2 separate regions of the Homo sapiens genome follow, and region 2 is linked to region 1. The links come from fine-mapping of genetic effects on gene expression. A gene starts in region 1. The other region holds a variant in brackets. All regions are shown on one strand. Distances are between the middles of the regions.

Region 1 (4,386 bases):
CCTTGGCTCTAGCAACATTTTGACCTGGATCATTCTTGCTGAGTACTGCAAGATGTTTAGTAGCGTCCCCAGCCTCTACACATTAGACGCCAGGGGCACCCACCCCAAATATCTCCACACATGGCCAAGTGTCCCCTGAATTACCCGCAATTGAGAACCACAACACAAGACAGTGACTCTGATTACAATGGAAGGACAGAAGTCAGGAAAACCCATCTCCCTCCATAGTCCTCTCTCCGTCACTTACCTACAATCTAGTCACATAGAACTCTGCTCAAACGCCCAGTGCCTCCTTTGTGGTATTAAATGCTTTACTTTCTTGATCTCATTTAACCCCCAAATGTGGTTACAACAACCTCTTGTTTACAGGTGAAGAAATGGAGGTTTAGAAAGATCACAGCTTGCACAGCAGTAAGTGGCAGGCTGGGATTACACAATTACACATCAGTAAGTGGTAGGCTGGGATGCAAACCCCAACCTGTCTAGTCCTGAGGCCAGCATTTAGCTATGCCACCCTGCCCCCAGGCTCTCACTCAGAGGTGAGAAATAGATTTTCTTTTCCTGGGTCAGCAGGGAGTGCTCTGTTTGAGAAGCCTCCGTTCCTCTGCTCTATAAAGCAGTAGCCCATCCCTCTTAAGGGAAACATCTTTCAGGTGCACAGCACACACATCCACGATTGTGGGTCTGCATGTCTGTCGCCCTCCCAGGCTGTGGTCTGTGTCCTCAGCCCCTAACACTGGGGCTTGCTGAGTAAAGTATTTGTAAATGCATGCCCACACAGCAGCGAGGGTTAGACACAGCAGCCAGTTGTGGAGTATGATCTCCCTGGCCATGTCCTGTGTGATCTTGGACAAGATAAAAACTTCTCTGAGCTCAATGTTCCCATCCATAAAATGGGAGGACCCATTTCTCAGGACAGATGCAAGAATTAAATGATGATAAATGCAGGCTGGTTTGTACTGATGCCAGGTGCTTTTTACATAGTCACCAGCAGGGAATGTCTAACTCCCTCCATGAAGTTGCCTACGCAAAGCTCTCTTTCAATTCCTGAACCTCTTTTGGTCAGTCTGTGACCCCCTTGTAGCCAGTGGAGTTGCTCTTTTAGGGTTGTCTGTCCAGCTAGACTTTTAGCTCCCTGAGGACAGGAGCTGTTCCTTTGTTCCCTCCCACAGCAGCCAGCCTGATACCGTCCTCATGGATCTTGTCAATGGATCACCAACAATAATTGCTGAAGAAGCAATAGTATGATTCCTACTTTTGCATTCGATACTGACTTTTCTGAGTAGGTTTTAGCATCTGGCATGCTTTTCCTTGGTTTGCAGCTCGACAGTCGTGCTGTGATTCCCTTCTCCCAGCAGTTCAGGTTATTAGCCATTACTTTGTTTCCGCTTTGGTCATTTTCTTTGATTTCCTCAGCCGCACATTACCTGTGTTAAGATTTCCGCTCATTGCTTCAAACTTAAGGAGTTGAAGAGGGGCTCAGGAGGGCCCAGTTAAGGTAGCCCTTCAAGGCTCCGAGCCCCATCCTGCCCAGCCAGGAGCTGCTGGACCATCAGCCAGTCAGGATGCTTTCTGGGCGTCAGCAGCCTCATCAATAAATTAAGGATATAAGTAGGACCTGCCTCAAAAGGTTAGAAGATTAAAAGTACAGTGGCTAGAATGTATCACACCCTCAATCTCTACAAACCCTCCTCTGACTGGGGCGGGTGGGGTGACCCGTGGGCAGCTGAGCGAGGGGAAACTTTCCCGGGCTTTCCAGCTCTTTAGCAGGCAGCAGGCAGGGCCCAGAGCGCCGGGCGTGCAGGCTGCAGCGGCTTTGCTTCCCCACGTTCCTCCCATGGGAGGACTGGCTGGCTTCAGTAACCCCTGGTGCTGTGGGAGCGAGAGCCAGACCTCACTGCCCCACCGCAGAAGACAAGCAAAGCCATCCTCGCTGACCCTACCGGCAGCATGCACTTCAAAATTAATAAAGGCTGCTCCAAAGTCTCTCCTCTTCAAAGCACCCAGGGCTGCCTCCCTCCCCAGTAATCAAGCCGGTTCTCCACACTCCCCGCTCCGACTTTATTGATTTGCCTGAAAGGAACCCAGTGCCCTCCCCAGATTATACCCCTGGAGGTATTGCAGGCATCGGATCCTCCACCGCTCAGTCAGGCCCCGACGGGGGTCTCCGCCAGGCTTGGCCCCTCCCCCAAGGTCACCCAACTTTTCCCTCTGTCCCCGCGCCCGGCCCGGGGCGAGAGGGGGTGGCGAGGTGGGGGCCGGGTGGGGCGCCACGGGGCCGGCGCTGGCCCCCTCCCCCGCGGGGCGGGCCCCGCCATGCATTATTCATTGGCCAGAGCCGGGCTGCGGGCGCGAGTGCTGATGTCAGGCAGGCGCGAGTGCGGCGGGCGCAGCGGCGGCGGCCGCCCAGCAGCCCGGGCTCGGGTGGGGGGGCGCCGAGTGGGGGTGGCGGCCAGCATGCTGCTCGGCTGCGGCTCGGCCTCCCACACCCGCGGCTCCCTAGTCCTCGCCAGCAGCGGCGGCGGCAGAGCAGCGAGCGGCGCCCGCGTCTGCAGCGGCGCCGGGTCCGAGCGCGCGGCGCGGCGGTGGGGGTCGGGGCCCGGGCGGGGAGCGGGGACCGGGCATGGCGCTGCGGAGAGGCGGCTGCGGAGCGCTCGGGCTGCTGCTGCTGCTGCTGGGCGCCGCGTGCCTGATACCGCGGAGCGCGCAGGTGAGGCGGCTGGCGCGCTGCCCCGCCACTTGCAGCTGTACCAAGGAGTCTATCATCTGCGTGGGCTCTTCCTGGGTGCCCAGGATCGTGCCGGGCGACATCAGCTCCCTGTGAGTGGGACCCCTCCAGCCCCCATCCCGTCCCGCCCCACCCTGCGTCCGCCGCCGCGAGGGAGTTGCCTCTGGCGCCGGGCCAGCGCGACCCTGACCCACTCCCCAGGCCCCTTCTTTGCCTTTGTGTGGGGGACGTGGGTGGAGTGTTGGCCCCCGGGGAGGACGGTGAGGACCTGAGCCCCAGAATCTGGGAACCCAGACAGGTTCCTGTGGCAGCGTTTCTCAGAGTGTGGCCCACGGGCCACCTGCATCAGACTCACCTGGGGAAGCTTGTGCCAATGCAGAATCCAGCTGCTCTGAAGCAGTCTTTGGAGTGGAGTCCTGGAGTGTGCGTTTGACGTCCCCGGGAGACTCAAGGGTGCATTAAAGTTTGAGAGGGCGTGTGCGTGTGTGTGTGTGTGTTTGCGGGTTGGAGTTGTGTGTGTAGGGGCGTGCATAGGAGCAGCTGAACACGACCTGACTGAGTGCAAACTGGGCAGGGTGAGGCCTCACTGCCCCACATCAGGTCTGGGGCGAATGTTCACCCCGTGGCCTCCTCCCGACTTCTCCACATTGCAGGTTGCAAAAAGTCGAGGTCAAGGCATGCAGGCTCTGGGAGGGGAGGGGCCGCCCCCCGTGGCCTAGAAGAGGGGTAACAGAAGGCTGGGCAGAGGTTTGGGGCATGTTGGGCGCCTAGCCCAGTGGCCAAGTGCTTTGAAGTCAGCCTTCTTGCCCTGAGGTCAGGAGGGCTTCTTGCCCCCTTTCTCCATCACACAGTTGTGTTGGCTGCTTTTTCAGCAGGAGGAACTGACAGGAAAGGGCTTCACATTAGGTATCCACCTGCCGAGAGGTGCTTTCATCCTGCCCTCACCTGGCCACTCAAGCCAAATGACCAGCTCTCACAAGGGCGGTGGAAGGGGCTGTTGGGCTGTATCTTTACTGCTAGGACATGTTTCCTGCTAAGACCACTCTCTTGTTCCAGGCCAAGATGCCTGGGTGCCCAGTCAGTGGTGGAGGCAGGGAATCCCCGGGGTGACGTTGCTTGTGCTCAAGATACTTTCTTGTGTCCAGTGCTTCCCAGCCTCCCACCCAAGGCAAATTGTAGGGGCCTGGACCCAGGAGTGAGGGGGTTCCCATTTGCATTTATAGAAAGTCAGAAGAGTTTGGCTGGTGGGAACAGAGGACCTTTTTGATTCTTAATATTGCTAAGTCGGGTGACATGGAGGATTCCAGAAATTAGAGTTCCCCTTATTAAATCCTTCAGACCAGCAGCTGCTTAAGTGATCTGCATGCCAACTGAAAGGAATTCTGAAATAATGTATTCAGATCCTGCTGTGGCCAGAAAGGATGGGGGCCTGGGGGCAGAAATAAAGCCAAGCATCTTGCCTCCTGGTTGACCGTTTTATCTGGCAGATGGTACTGCCTCTCCCCACACAGGGGAGTTCAGGTGTCTGTGAGTTTTTCCCCAGGGCTTTCATGTTGCATTTAATCAGGAGTGCTCTGTCTTTCAGAGATGGGGTCCCAAGAGGAATGCTTAATCCTACCCCAGCATTTCATAGGCCAACACAACGCTGTGTCTACACA
Region 2 (4,386 bases), 27 kb after region 1:
TAAAGGAAAGAAATAACCTTTAATGGAGTGATCTAGATGGAGGATCAGTGGTCTCGTAGGTGGTCCTTTGCTTAGTGGTTGGTCTTCTGGAATGGGGAGGTCTGGGGGGCATCTGGGTGCAGGGTGATAAGGGATGGTGGGAGGTGAGCCAGAGGGGAGAGTCACCACGGAAAATGGTCCCCTGCCTCTGCAAAGTCTTAGTTTTATGACGTCTGAGCTAGATCATTCAGACTATTGCTCCTTCTTTAGATACTTATGCATGCCCACTATGGGCAAGCACTAAGGGGCAAGGTCTTGTGATTATAGTGACAATTGCTTCAATTGTTCAATAATGATAGCCACTAATGAGCAATCACCCGCTAGGTGCCAGTGCTCCATGCTAAAAACGCTTGCCATGAATGATCTCATTTCATCCTTATAGTCACTTGTAAGATCAGTGCTGGCAGCATCTTCAGTCTCATTTTACGAATGAGGAACTTGAGCACAGAGAGTTGGGTTAACCAGCACAGGGTCAGAAAGCTTACAAGGTGCGGGGCTGGGCTTTGAACCCTAGGCCACCTGGTCTGTGTCATAAGGTTTAATCCTACTCTTTCTGCCTCCACTTGGCTTCCTTTAGCTCTGGAAATCAAAAGAGCCCAAATGTCTTCAAGAACACTCAGAAATCTTTTTCTCCTGCCTCTGAGACCTCACTCCTGCCTTTTTATCATCCCTTACCCCCCGCAACCCCCCACCACCCCAGGAGAAGCCTGTTTAACTGCCTCCTTCTGCCATATGGAGTCAGGAAATACTTTTTTTTTTTCAAGGATACACATTTTTTAAACTGACAAATTAAAATTGTATCTATTTATTTGTGTATAAAATGTTGTTTTGAAATATGTATACATTGTGGAATGGCTAAATCAAGCTAATTAATGTAGCTTTATTTAAAAACATGATGATAATTCCCTTGGTGCGTTAGTGAGTTTCCTGAATTGTATGCCTGCCTCTGAGGACTCCAGAGGCCCTGAAGACCTCACTCAGCCATTTCTACGGAAGCACATTTTTAAACAACTTAAAAAAATTGTTTTAATTGTGGCAACATACACATAGCACAAAATGTACTGTCTTAACCATGTTTTAGTATACTGGTCAGTGGCATTAGGTACATTCACAGTGTTGTACAACTAACGTCCAAACGCTTTTCATCTTGAAAAACTGAAACTCTGTGCCATTAAATGACAACTCCTCATTTGCCCCATCCCACAGCCCCTGAAAACCACTCTTTGCCTTTCTGTCTCTATGCATCTGACTGCTCTAGGTACCTCATATAAGTGGAATCATATAGTATTCGTCTTTTTGTGACTGGCTATTTCACTTAGCCTAATGCCCTCAAAGTCCATCCATGTTGTAGCATATGTCAGAATTTTCCTCCTTTTAGGGCTGAATAATATTCCATTTTATGTATATGCCACATTTTGTCTATCTATTTGTCCATTGAAGCAACTTGGGTTGCTTCCACCTTTCGGCTATTGTGAAGGATGATGTTATAGGTGTCTTAGTCTGTTTGGGCTGCTGCAACAGAATACCGTAGACTGAGTGGCTTATAAGCAACAGAAATTTATTTCTCATAGTTCTGGGCCTGGGAAGTCCAAGATCAAGACATTGGCAGATTTGGTATGTGGCAAGAACCCACTGCATAGCTGGCCACCTCTTTGCTGTGTCTATGTGGTGAAAGGGCAGAGGGAGTTGGAAGGCACTAATCCCATTCCTGAGGACTCTGCTCCCATGACCTAATCACCTCCCAAAGGCCCCACCACCAAATACCATCACATTGGAGATGAGGTTTCATCATATGCATTTGGAGAGAGCACAAACATTTGGTCTATAGCATTAGGTGTACAGATATCTCTTTGAGTCACTGCTTTCAATTATTTTGGGTATATACAAAGAAGTGGAATTGCTGGCTCATAGGGTAATTCCATGTTTAATTTTTCAAGGAACCACCATACTGTTTTCCATAGTGGCTGTGCCATTTCACACTCCCACCAGCAGTGTATAAGAGTACAAGCGGAGATGCGTTTTTAGCTGTAGTTGCACTAATGTCCTCTCCTTTATTTTGGAGCACAGGTCAGTCCATCGTGGGCTGTAAGGCCATTCTCATCGATGATCAGGTCTTTGTGGTGGTAGCCCAGCTCTTCGGTGGCTCTCACATTTACAAATACGACGAGAGTTGGACCAAATTTGTCAAATTCCAAGACATAGAGGTCTCTCGCATTTCCAAGCCCAATGACATCGAGCTGTTTCAGATCGACGACGAGACGTTCTTTGTCATCGCAGACAGCTCAAAGGCTGGTCTGTCCACAGTTTATAAATGGAACAGCAAAGGATTCTATTCTTACCAGTCACTGCACGAGTGGTTCAGGGACACGGATGCGGAGTTTGTTGATATCGATGGAAAATCGCATCTCATCCTGTCCAGCCGCTCCCAGGTCCCCATCATCCTCCAGTGGAATAAAAGCTCTAAGAAGTTTGTCCCCCATGGTGACATCCCCAACATGGAGGA[C/T]GTACTGGCTGTGAAGAGCTTCCGAATGCAAAATACCCTCTACCTTTCCCTTACCCGCTTCATCGGGGACTCCCGGGTCATGAGGTGGAACAGTAAGCAGTTTGTGGAGATCCAAGCTCTTCCATCCCGGGGGGCCATGACCCTGCAGCCCTTTTCTTTTAAAGATAATCACTACCTGGCCCTGGGGAGTGACTATACATTCTCTCAGATATACCAGTGGGATAAAGAGAAGCAGCTATTCAAAAAGTTTAAGGAGATTTACGTGCAGGCGCCTCGTTCATTCACAGCTGTCTCCACCGACAGGAGAGATTTCTTTTTTGCATCCAGTTTCAAAGGGAAAACAAAGATTTTTGAACATATAATTGTTGACTTAAGTTTGTGAAGGTGTGGTGGGTGAAACTAAGAGAAATGTAGCATTAGCTCTCACAAAAGAGGACCAAGAAAAATCAACAAACAAATCAAAGCCAGGCTCAGAGCTCTGAAATTAAAAAGCACTGAAATAGTTAGATGTTTTCAAACTTTTAGAACTCACATTTTAATCAGGGATTGCATTTATTGGCTAACTGCATGACATGCCCATTCTACCATTTAAAAAAAAATCTTAAAGCCTGTAATTTCTGAGAAAAGAGTACAGCATTTACTCTTATCATCTAGAAATGTAATATGCTTCCCCCCCGCTTTTTGATGAGGAAGAAGACAATTGGATAAGATGGGACAGCACTTATAATGAAATAAAAAAAAACTTTGAGCCCCTCTCATTCCACTTTAGCAATCTTTTTGGTAAGAACTCTTAAAGCCAAAAGTCTGCTGAAAAGATTTGCTGATTATTAGTTTAAAAATCTTGTAACACTCAGCAGTGCTATTTTGAGTCATCCCAGTTTCCTGAAAGTAATGCCCAGTCTTCCTGAATCCTCCTTAATAGCAGAACCTTGGTGATTTTGTTGGCTCATATGAATGCTTGTCATGGATATGTTAACAATTTAGTGTTTGACATTGCTTCCTCTGCCACAAAGACAATACTCTGGTGACACATGTCTAGACCCAGCACAGGCTGTAGGCCCAGGAGTGACTCAAAGGAGTTTTTCCCTCTTTCTTACGGTTCAAAGGTGACCCTGGTGGTGGCCAGAGCAGTAATGCTTGTTTGATGCTCTTCATGGCTCATCTGCTTCTCAGAACCCACCCGTTGAGTTTGTGGGTAACCAGCAGGCAGGCCAAAGACTGGTGCTTTTCATTTCATCCTTTAGAGGGATGAAACAGTTATTTCCGTCTGATGAGCATTCGGTAGAATTTTTGAAGTGAGATTTTATGAAGTCAAAGGGGACTTTACACAGATCTCGACCTGCTTTGAAACCTAGAGGTGGCCCTTTGATTTGTGCGTGTCCTTGCCCTCTGGACAACTTAATATTTCAAGTAATCGAATACCAACTTCCCTGCCAGCCCACCTGCCTTCCGCCCCGCTTGTGTAACAGTCCTGTTTTGTTGAGTTGCTGCTATTGCACTGCCAGTGCAGCCCACACCAAATCACAACCCAAGATACTCAGATAGGAAGACTCCTTCCTCTCCCAGTACTTTACCAAAGGAACCCCCGCCAGGACCCACATGGGGCCACGTGTTGGCAGTGGAATCAGCCTGTGCAGGCTGGGGATCTCAGGCTGATCAGTAGGGGCCAGCTTTGGAGCCAGCCAAGCTGAATCCCACACTCCAGGTCTGTGCTCAAGAGACCAGATGGTGTATTTCCAAATGGGCCTCTCTGGTATGGGCAATAGGCAAGCTCCTGGGGTCTGGTTATGTGGAAGATTCTTAGTGGATGTTCCGCCTGGTTAGCTGGTTCTCTTCAGAGAATA

Evidence for each region. PIP is the estimated chance that this variant, and not a neighbour inherited with it, causes the effect.
Region 2: its variant is the best candidate, but not a certain one, in a credible set for the expression of LGI2 in lung (TOPMed, PIP 0.86).

The regions. Positions count from the first base shown.
Region 1 is chr4:25,028,931-25,033,316 of GRCh38, reverse strand. It overlaps LGI2 (leucine rich repeat LGI family member 2), which reads left to right and starts at 2,371. Exons shown (of 8, transcript NM_018176.4): 1 at 2,371-2,820. The coding sequence starts at 2,624. It overlaps LOC124900684 (a long non-coding RNA gene), which reads right to left and starts at 3,209. Exons shown (of 2, transcript XR_007058083.1): 1 at 3,084-3,209.
Region 2 is chr4:25,001,989-25,006,374 of GRCh38, reverse strand. It overlaps LGI2 (leucine rich repeat LGI family member 2), which reads left to right. Exons shown (of 8, transcript NM_018176.4): 8 at 2,107-4,386. The coding sequence ends at 2,924. The region is part of intron 4 of LOC102723675 (a long non-coding RNA gene); the gene reads right to left. Among named protein-coding and RNA genes, the nearest start is that of LGI2, 27 kb to the left of the region's middle. The variant C/T (reference allele first, on the strand shown) is at 2,543.